2 separate regions of the Homo sapiens genome follow, and region 1 is linked to region 2. Evidence: fine-mapped expression QTL. A gene starts in region 2. The other region holds a variant in brackets. All regions are shown on one strand. Distances are between the middles of the regions. Region 1 overlaps SPATA1 (spermatogenesis associated 1). Region 2 holds the start of PRKACB (protein kinase cAMP-activated catalytic subunit beta).

Evidence for each region. PIP is the estimated chance that this variant, and not a neighbour inherited with it, causes the effect.
Region 1: its variant is the best candidate, but not a certain one, in a credible set for the expression of PRKACB in lymphoblastoid cells (GTEx, PIP 0.76).

Annotation. Positions count from the first base shown.
Region 1 is chr1:84,556,860-84,562,250 of GRCh38, forward strand. All of the region lies in intron 13 of SPATA1 (spermatogenesis associated 1), which reads left to right. The region is part of intron 6 of CTBS (chitobiase); the gene reads right to left. Among named protein-coding and RNA genes, the nearest start is that of CTBS, 15 kb to the right of the region's middle. The variant C/T (reference allele first, on the strand shown) is at 2,914.
Region 2 is chr1:84,140,992-84,146,382 of GRCh38, forward strand. PRKACB (protein kinase cAMP-activated catalytic subunit beta) reads left to right here and starts at 3,280. Exons shown (of 10, transcript NM_182948.4): 1 at 3,280-3,557. The coding sequence starts at 3,371. RefSeq lists a silencer at 3,299-3,348.

The DNA of each region.
Region 1 (5,391 bases), 420 kb after region 2:
AGACAAAGCCATGCATGCCCTAGTAATAGTTGTGATTCATTATTAAAAGGCAACTTGTAGAACTTGTACTTAAATATGACAGATTATTGAAGATTCAGGGGCAAACCCAAAGACATATACCTTTGAATTTTGCCATCATTCTAGCTAGTACTTTGAGCCTTTTTGATATTATTAAGAAATTCAAATGTCTCAAAATTGTAAAGGAACAAAGGGCAAAAACTAAGCACATGTAAGACTAATTTATGCATGGTTAAGGCATATTTGCTTTCCAGAATATTGAGTCCAAGATGAGCTGCTATTGCTGAAACAGCCCAATAGAGTGATTCTCTTCAAATAAGACAGAAACTTGATTCATGTTGCTACAGAATTTTGCAATTAATAAAAAAGAGGGGGCCAGGCGCGATGGCTTACGCCTGTAATCCCAGCATTTTGGGAGGCCAAGATGGGTGAATCACCTGAGGTCAGGAGTTCAAGACCAGCCTGGCCAACATGGTGAAACCCTGCCTCTACTACAAATACAAAAATTAGCTGGGTGTGGTGATGCATGCCTGTAATCCCAGCTACTCAGGACGCTGAGGCAGGAGAATTGCTTGAACCTGGGAGGCGGAGGGCGCAGTCAGCCGAGATCGTGCCACTGCACTCCAGCCTGGGCGAAAAGAACAAAACTCCATCTCAAAAAAAAAAAAAAAAAAAAGAAAAAAAAAAAAAGAAGGAGGCTGGGCGCGGTGGCTCACACCTATAATCCCAGCCCTTTGGGAGGCCGAGATGGGCAGATCATGAGGTCAGGAGATCGAGACCATCCTGGCTAACACAGTGAAACCCCGTCTCTATTAAAAAAATACAAAAAAATTAGCCAGGCTTGGTGGCGGGCACCTGTAGTCCCAGCTACTTGGGAGGCTAAGGCAGGAGAATGGCGTGAACCCGGGAGGCGGAGCTTGCAGTGAGCCAAGATCGCGCCACTGCACACCAGCGTGGGCGACATAGTGAGACTCCATCTCAAAAAAAAAAAAAAGAGGAAGGAAACAGTTATAACTAGATTTTTTTCTAAAGTGGCATTAAATGGCCTTCAATGCGCACCAAAATGTTTCCTGAATTCTGAGACCTAAAGAATGTGTTTCTTCATAGAAACAGAGTAAAAAGGTGGTTACCAGAGGCTGGGGGTGGGAAGAATAGATATTTCAAGACACAAATTTTCAATTAGGAACAATAAATACAAGAAATCTACTGTATCCCGTGGTAACTATAGTTAATAACAATGTATTATGTTGAAAATTCCTAAGAGAATGGATTTTAAGTGTTCTTACCATTTAAAAAATGGTATGTGAGGTAATACATATGTTAAATAACTTGATTTAGCCATTTCACAATGTATAGATATATCAAAACATCATCTTCTACACCATAAATACAGATAATTTTTGCCTGCCATTAAACTTTTTTTTTTTTTTGAGACGGAGTCTCGCTCTGTCGCCCAGGCTGGAGTGCAGTGGCGGGATCTCGGCTCACTGCAAGCTCCGCCTCCCGGGTTCACGCCATTCTCCTGCCTCAGCCTCCCAAGTAGCTGGGACTACAGGCGCCCGCCACTACGCCCGGCTAATTTTTTTTGTATTTTTAGTAGAGACGGGGTTTCACCGTTTTAGCCGGGATGGTCTCGATCTCCTGACCTCGTGATCCGCCCGCCTCAGCCTCCCAAAGTGCTGGGATTACAGGCGTGAGCCACCGCGCCCGGCCACTTTTTTTTAATTAAAAAAAAAAAAGAGGCCAAGTGCAGTGGCTCACACCTGTAATCCCAGCATTTTGGGAGGCCAAGGTGGGAGAATCACTTGAGGCCAGGAGTTCAAGACCAGCCTGGGCAATATAGAAAGACCCCGTCTCTACAAAAAGTAAAAAAATCAGCCTGGCATGATGGCACACGCCTATGGTCCTAGCTACTTGGTAGGCTGAGGCAGGAGGATTGCTTGAGCCCAAGAGGTCAAGGCTGCAGTGAGCCATGATTGTGCCACTGCACTCCATCCTGGGTGACAGAGCAAAACCTCGTCTAAAAAAAAAGAAGAATGTGTTCCTGCATTTTCACATTCATTAAGGAAAAAACAAGCCACAGATTACTAAGGTCAGGATTACAAAGAAACAGTATATGGTAGTATATACTGTCCTAAGATTCTATGTTACATATTTTTAAATTACAGGCATACCTCATTTTATTGTACTTTGCTTTATTGTGCTTTGCAGACATTAAATTTTTTGCAAATTGAAGGTTTATGGCAACTCTATTGAACAAGTCTACTGGTGCCATTTTTCCAACAGCAAGTGCTCATTTTGTGTCTGTGTCACATTTTGGCAATTCTTAAAATATTCCAAACTTTTTCATTATTATTATTATATCTGTTATGATGATCTGCAATCAGTGGTCTTTGATGCTACTATTGTAATTGTTTGTGGGCACCATGAACTGCCCATATAAGACTTAATAACAATATTTGGCTAGGCGCGGTAGCTCACGCCTGTAATGCCAACACTTTGGAAGGCCGAGATGGGAGGATCACTTGAAGTCAGGAGTTTCAAACCAGCCTGGCCAACATGGTGAAACCACATCTCTACTAAAAATACAAAAAATTAGCCGGGCATGGTAGGGCATCCCTATAACCCCAGATATTTGGGAGGCTAAGGCACGAGACTCACTTACACCTAGGAGGCAGAGGTTGCAGTGAACTGAGATTGTGCCACTGCACTCCAGCCTGGGTGACGGAGCGATACTCCATCTCAGAAAAAAAAGACTTAATAACGATATTGAAATTAGACTAATAACCTTACAATGGGAATTTTGCAATGAATAAAAAAGAGGAAGAAAATAGTTATAATTAGATTGTTTTCTGAAGTGACATTAAATGGCCTTCAAGGCTCACCAAAATGTTT[C/T]CTGAATTCTAAGAGCTTAAACAATGTGTTGGCCAGGTGCAGTGGCCCATGCGTGTAATCCCAGGCCTTTGGGAGGCCAAGGTAGGCGGATCACTTGAGGTCAGGAGTTTGAGACCAGACTGGCCTACATAGTGAAACCCCATCTCTACTAAAAATATAAAAATTAGCCCGGCATAGTGGCGGGCACCTGTAATCCCACCTATGGGGGAAGCTGAGGAGTAGAATTGCTTGAACCCAGGAGGCAGAGGGTGCAGTGAACCCAGAGGGCGCCACTGCACTACAGCCTGGGCGACAGAGCAAGACTCTGTCTCAAAAAAAAAAAAAAAAAGAAAGAAAGAAAGAAAGAAAGAAAGAAAGAAAGGAAAGAAAGAAAGAAAGAGAAACTAGAATCCCTCTTCCCTAAAATGGGTCATAGAAACTAGAGCCTCTTTTCCCCAAAACCAGCCATAAAGTCTAAAAATGTTACTCTAACCTTTCCCACCACCACCTTTCTGTGTAATAGCTGGCCATAAAGAAATTAAGACCCTCATTCCAGAGAGGTCCTACCCCATACCCATGAGAAGAAATCCTTCACAGAGAGGCCAAGAAAAATCTGAACAGACAGTCCTTGCTGAGTTTTCCCACTCAGTCTGTTTGCATTAGCTCATGCCCTTTATTCTGATCACAGTTCTACATAGCTGTCCATACTTCGTTGAACCTAAGCACAAAAATGGACAGTTTTTCCTGTATCTTTGGGTTTTCATTCTGAAACCTCCCATGTCGGGTAAAATTATGATCAAACACATTTTAAAAGGCAGAGACCCCTTTCTTCAAATAAATCTTATATTGGAAGAAGATGATGCCATTTAAGACTTTGCTAGCTAGACAGGAGAAGTCAATACCTGGCTTTAAAGCTCAAAGTACAGGCTGATTCTCTTGTTAGGGACTAATGAGGGTGGTAACTTTAAGTTGAAGCCAGTGTTCATTTACCATTCCAAAAATCCTATGGCACTTAAGAATTATGCTAAATTGACTCTGCCTGTGATCTATAAATGGAATAACAAAGCCTGGCTCACAGCACATCTGTTTACTGAATATCTTAAGCCCACTGCTGAGATGTACTAAGAAAAAAAAGAGATTTCTTTCAAAATATTACTGCTCATTGACAATGCACTTGGTCACCCAAGAGCTCTGATGGAGAACACAAGATGAATGTTATTTTCATGCCTGCTAACACAACATCCATTCTGCAGCCCATGGAACAAGGAGTAATTTCAACTTTTAACTCTTATTAATTAAGAAATAGATTTTGTAAGGCTGTAGCAGCCAAAGACAGTAACTCCTTTCATGGATCTGGCCAAAGTAAACTGAAAGCTTTTTGGAAAGGATTCACCATTCTAGATGCCATTAAGAACATTCATGATTCATGCATGGGAGGAGGTCAAAATATCAACATTAACAGGAGTTTGGAAGAAGTGGGTTACAACCCTCATGGATGACATTGAGGGGTTCAAGACTTCAGTGAAGGAAGTAACTGCAGAGGTAGTGGAAACAGCAAGAGAATTAGAATTGGAGGTGAATCCTAAATATGTGACTCAATTGCTACAATCTCGTGATAAAATTTGAATAGATGAGGAGCTACTTCTTATGAATACGCAAAGAAAGTAGTTTCTTGAGAATGGAATCTATTCCTGGTAAAATGCTGTGAACATTGTTCAAATAACAGCAAAGGATTTAGAATATTCTATAAACTTATTAATAAAGCAGCAGCAGAGTTTGATGGGGTTGACTCCAATTTTGAAAGAAGTTCTACTGTGGGTAAAATGCAATCAAATAGCATCACGTTTTACACAGAAATCTTTCGTGAAAGGAAGAGTCAATTGACGTGGCAAACTTCACTGTTGTCTTATTTTAAGAAATTGCCATAGCCACCCCAACCTTCAGCAACCACCACCCTGATCAGTCAGCAGCCATCAATGACAAGGCAAGACACTCTTCCAGCAAGCAGGTTATAACTTGATAAAGGCTCAGATGATCGTTATCATTTTTTTAGCAATAAAGTATTTTTAAATTAAGGTATGTACTTTTTTTAGACATAATGCTATTACACACTTAACAGACTACAGTATAGTATAAACATAACTTTTATATGCACAGGGAAACAAAAAATTCATGTCACTTGCTTTATTGCTATATTTACTTTATTGTGGTGGTCTAGAACTGACTCTGCAATATCTCTAAGGTATGCCTGTATATGTAATTGGTTACCATAACTTTTAACAAACCATATCCATGAAACAGTTTCTAAGAACTGCATGTTTCTAAGAATGCTGTGAAACAAGATTATATGTCAAACAATTAAACTACCTTATGTATTACAGCACTTCTCAAACCCATTAATATAATTGTTGTTACAAATCTCCAAGAGGGGCGTACAGTATATAGTGTTTTTCTAAATATATTTGGCCATGGCACACGTGTGTATATTTTGCACACATG
Region 2 (5,391 bases):
CACTTTATATGTGGTAAAGTGCTTGGTAAATGTGTCATCACTATTATTAAATAAAAGAAACCAATATTTTGTGGTATTTTGTGGCAATTAAAGCTGGTTCAACTCTGAAAATTTCTATAATTTTAAAAATTAATGCAGAATGAAGGAGGAATAAAATCAACCTCATGAAGTTGATTACTCTCTAGTTTTAAAATCTTATTTAACTACAAGATAAGCTATTCTGGTAAATTCTCGGTGCATGGCGAGACATTTAGTGCGAATTAAAGTTGTGGAAACACCGCTAGGAAGAATAACAAGCAATATACTTCTTAAAGTTAATTGCAGTTATGAAGGAATTCATAGTTTTAGTTAAAACTGCAGTTGTTTCTTTCTAGCAGTAGATGCCAGTAGAGTTCTTCTTTTTATTTTTATTTCTTAATCAAAAATCAAATATCCGAAGTACTTCTATAGCAATAGCTTCCTGGTCACATTACCACATATAGAAACATTGCTTTAAATATTAAATATTCTATTTTCTGGAAGGACTTGATAACAAATTGAAACAATTTTATTTTTAAAACAGTGCAGATTTAAAATACGGTGTTTTCAAGATACTCATCTAGTGAAGTTTACTCTTTTTGCTTTAGTAATTTTGTTTTAAAGCTTATGCATTGTTTTAAATAAAGTAATCTTAGTGTTCTAGTTAGGAATCTGCAACTTCTGTACTTGAGCAACATTGAATATAAATAAAAAATCTGGCTAGATGTGTTAAAAATGAATACGGTCCAGCTGAAATGTTACGATTAGTTTGTGTATTTGGCAATGGAATACCATGAGTGTAATACTTTGGGGAGGTTAATATGTCAGAGAGGTGAATGATTAAAGGGGGTAATTGGAAGCGGGGAAAACAAGAAGTTAAGAAGTCCACATTGGCACTGAGTAAAAATGTAATTCAAAGAATGAATAAAATTTAGTAACAAATAGAAAAAAGGAGAAGTTCAATGATAACAGTTCTATTACTCTTGTCTCTATATATGAGCAACTTGGTGCTTCTTGGATTATCTATAAATATGGTCCCATCATAAATAAAATTCAAACATTTTCAAGTATTCGGTGATTCTACTTAGACCTTTAAATTGTTAAAAATGAGTGAATACTTTTTTCTTTTAACATGTTTATTGAGTATGTAATACATGCATTTCATTTATGAATTCAAGTAACTCACAATTTAGGGTCATATAAATTCATAAACAGTACCTTTTAACATAATATTATGAGGTCAGTGAAAACAAAGCAGCAAAGTTTGTTTTCCTAGGAAGTATGTGGCAGACTTCACTGAAGAGGTGACATTTGAACTAAGCCTTGAAGATGATTAGAATTTCCTTCAGTAGAGCAAATCAAGGGAATTCAGTAATTTTATCCACTTCTTCCCTTACAGAATCAGTCCATGCTCTGTAGATATTTGTTGAAGACTACAGACATTTAATAAGTGTCTGTTTTGTGTAAGGCACTACCAGATGTTAAGAAACAAATTATTGTTATGCACACATAATATTTATACATAAAGCTACAAATTTAAGAATTTTGTCATATAGATGCTGTTGCATATTTGTTTAGATTGATAAAAATTTTATTACACAAAACAAAGTATACAGAAATGAGCTGTTACATGGCAAAATTCATTGGTCAGTGTTTTGTTAACTGTTATTCACACATAATATTTATACATAAAGCTATAAATTTAAGTTTATCTTATAGATACTGTTACATACTTGTTTAGATTGATATGAATTCCATTACACAAAGTATACACAAATGAACTGTTAAATGGCAAAATTCACTAATCAGTGTTTTCTTATTGGCCTTTTATGTAGTCCTAATTTGATTACATTATTGTTCCTATTTATTTTACTTATCAGTATTGTTTCTATTTTTTATGTTTGTCAAACAGTTGGCAGTAAATCTGAAGTAAGATTTTTTTAGATAGATTGTTTTAGATAGACCTTTTTCTTTCTTTCCTTTCCTTCCCTTCCCTCCCCTCCCCTCTGCTTCCAAAGAGAACCACGGAAATTTCTTATCCTTTAGTGTCAAAAAAACAAGTACTCAAAATTTTTGTTAAATGCCACAGGTTACTTTCTTTCCTGAAAATTGACAAGGCAAGTTTTACTTACTTTTAATCAAAAGAGATGTTTTGGCCAGGCGCGGTGGCTCACACTTGTAATCCCAGCACTTTGGGAGGCCAAGGCGGGCGTATCGCTTGAGGCCAGGAGTTTGAGACAACTCCTGACCTGGCCAACATGGAGAAACCCCATCTCTACTGAAAATACAAAAATTAGCCGGGCATGGTGGTGCGCGCCTATAATCCCAGCTACTCGGATGTCTGAGGGGCGAGAATCGCTTGAACCTAGGAGCGGAGGTCGCAGTGAGCAGAGGTCGCACCACTGCACTCCAATCTGGGAGACAGAGTGAAACAACGTTTAAAAAAAAATAGAGAGGTGTTTCTAAGTGAGATCACTAAATCAGGGGTTTAGGTAAGTAGTAGTCTTCAGTGGTAAGGTTTTAAAATTAACATGTCTCAGCCAACTAGAAGGAACTTTTTTCTCTCAATTGAAATTTCTTGCTATGGTGGATTTTATATAATTTAAATCTTGTATTTTGTTCTTTTCAAATTTTAGAATGTTTTAAAATGTACCCCTGGTAATAGACATATGTCAGCAGATTATAAGTTTGATAAGCAATACTGACATACTAAGTGTATGTAGTTCCTGTATGTATTAGGCCTAAATCAATGAATTAGAAACATTCAATTTTTTAAAGTGCTATTTCACATTGTTTTATTTATACGTGTTATAAATTTGTTTTGCAAGAGTTTTTTCATACCCATTTCATACTAGTTTTTTTTTATGAAAAGTTAGCTGCTTATAAGGATTCATAAAATCTGTATATTAGTTGATTTCCTAGAAAAAATACAACCTGTCTTTAGCATGTTGTGTTTGGAGGACAGCTTGGCCTTCAGTTGTTTGCATAGACTTGTCATACATGTTTAACTAGTTTTCTTTTTAAAGAATGTTTAGCCTACTATATATATAAAGCTTTATATTTAATGCTCTCATTAGCCTATATATTAATATTAAAACACCCAAACATAAAGCCTTTTAGGCAGATATTGCAAGTTTTTAAAATCCTCAACTCTAGCTGAAAAGTGTTTTGCTAAGAAAAGCTCAGTAATGTGCTGTTTTATATTAACAGGAAACAGAACAGCAGTAGTGGTTTGAATACCCTGCAAACAGGAAGTTTGACACATGCATAGCTCTTAGCTTCTGTGTAAGAAGTTGTGAGCTCCTTCTGGAAACATTTGCAGTTACATTAAGTAAAGTGTAAATGCACATGAATGGCAGCTTATAGAGAACCACCTTGTAACCAGTATACAGGTACAACTACAGCTCTTCAGAAATTGGAAGGTTTTGCTAGCCGGTTATTTCATAGACACTCTAAAGGTACTGCACATGATCAGAAAACAGCTCTGGAAAATGACAGCCTTCATTTCTCTGAACATACTGCCTTATGGGACAGATCAAGTAAGTTTTGTTTTTTAAATGATACATTATAACTAGCAACTAAAATGGTAATTGGAGTTTTACAATCAAACATAAAGAACCCTCTTTTGTTTGTTGTTTTCTGATTTTCACAAGGACATTTTGCAAGATGAAGTTGAAAGAATTCCATAAAAACTTGATTATAAGTTGAGCTGAATCATTCAGCTTTCATCATTGTATGGTTTTATTTTTGACTAAGTTCAATATCAGTGACAAGATTTTCTATAAAATTCTTACATCATTTCTAATGTACTTTTTTTTGTTGTTCTTACATAAAAATGAAATACTTAAGTTTCAGAAACAACCATCTGTTTACTTCTTAAAATGTCTTGTATTTATAAGCTTTAAACTTTGAAAGGGGCAACAAGACTCTTGAATTTATAATTACATTTCTATTGTGTTTGCCATGGTTTTATTTTTAAATGCATGTGAGAAAGTTATTTCAGTTTTACAAACAGGAATTTCTAAAATAAAACATAATTATTCTATCTAAATTCTTACACTTATAACATTATGGATATCAAAAACTTTATAATTATATTTTATGTTATTTATACATATGACTCAAATGCAGGAAAAGTTGGTTATGCATGAATCACATTCTTTCAGGCATGTTAAAATGTTTGAACTTGCAGCTTTGCTAAAATGGTGCTGGGGAACCATTTTTGGTGCCATACACTCTAAAAGATAAATTGCACATATAAACAATACTAGTGCCGCCATTCTACATCTCACCTTGGACCCTCCTCAAGGTATTTCTGTGACTCCAATTAGAGGAACAATAGAATTACCCTTGAAACTTTTGCCCTCTTTGGTGTGTTTGTTTGATCATCAAATAGCACTAGCGTTTGACTCTTTCTGTTTATGTATTTGGTAGCAGTTAAGGAAGAAAACTCAGCTTAACAACCACAACAGCAAAATCAAGAATGGCTTACAAAATTTACTCCTAGGTTTATACAGCACCTTGACAGTGTTATAGAAGCTTATTTGAATTAATTTTTTACTAAATCAGAAATTTTTTTACATTCTTCAAACTATTTTTGGGAGATTGAGGAAGAACATGTATTTGTGCATTTTTTCCACTTAAAAGGTTTTGGGTTATTTATAGTCTTTACTGTATAGCAAGTTGATGGATGAGGAATATGAATATATATCTTCAAGTTAATGAACTGTTGAATATTAAAATAGTGGTATAATATTAAACTTTACCATGTAACAAAAGCTTGTTAATTATTGTCCTTGCCCTATTCTTTTAAATTGCAGTCTTTTAAATCCTTTTGGAAATTATTTTTATGCATTTCAAGTATGTTTTAATTTAAAGTTAAATGAGGAATTAAGACAGAATTGAATTAATTTCTGTTTCATTAATACCTGCTCTTCATATAGTGGGTGTTTAGTAAAAGTGTCTCAAATAAATGAATGTTAGGGGTTTTTAATAATTAAAAGTTATGTTTGAACTAGACTTTCACCACTTTTTAAATGTATGGGATCTGTGATGCTTTCTAAAACATATTTTAAAATCTAGTAATGGAAAATAGTATCATGAGCCATGATTTCTATTGGATAAAATGCTGTTTTGTTTTTTTTTTATTGTGAAGTCAAAACAAATAGGATTCTTGTACACAAATAAAATTAGGAGCAAACCATGTAGCGCTGCAAATAATATGCATGATGTAAGAAATACTTAAAGAGTAACTGAATGTTCATTAATTAAGCATTCCTCTACTTGACTCTCCTTTTTATATCCCTGAATACCATAATAGAGATAATAATTTTATGTCTAAGGATGAGTATGGTAGCATGAAGCTATAATTTC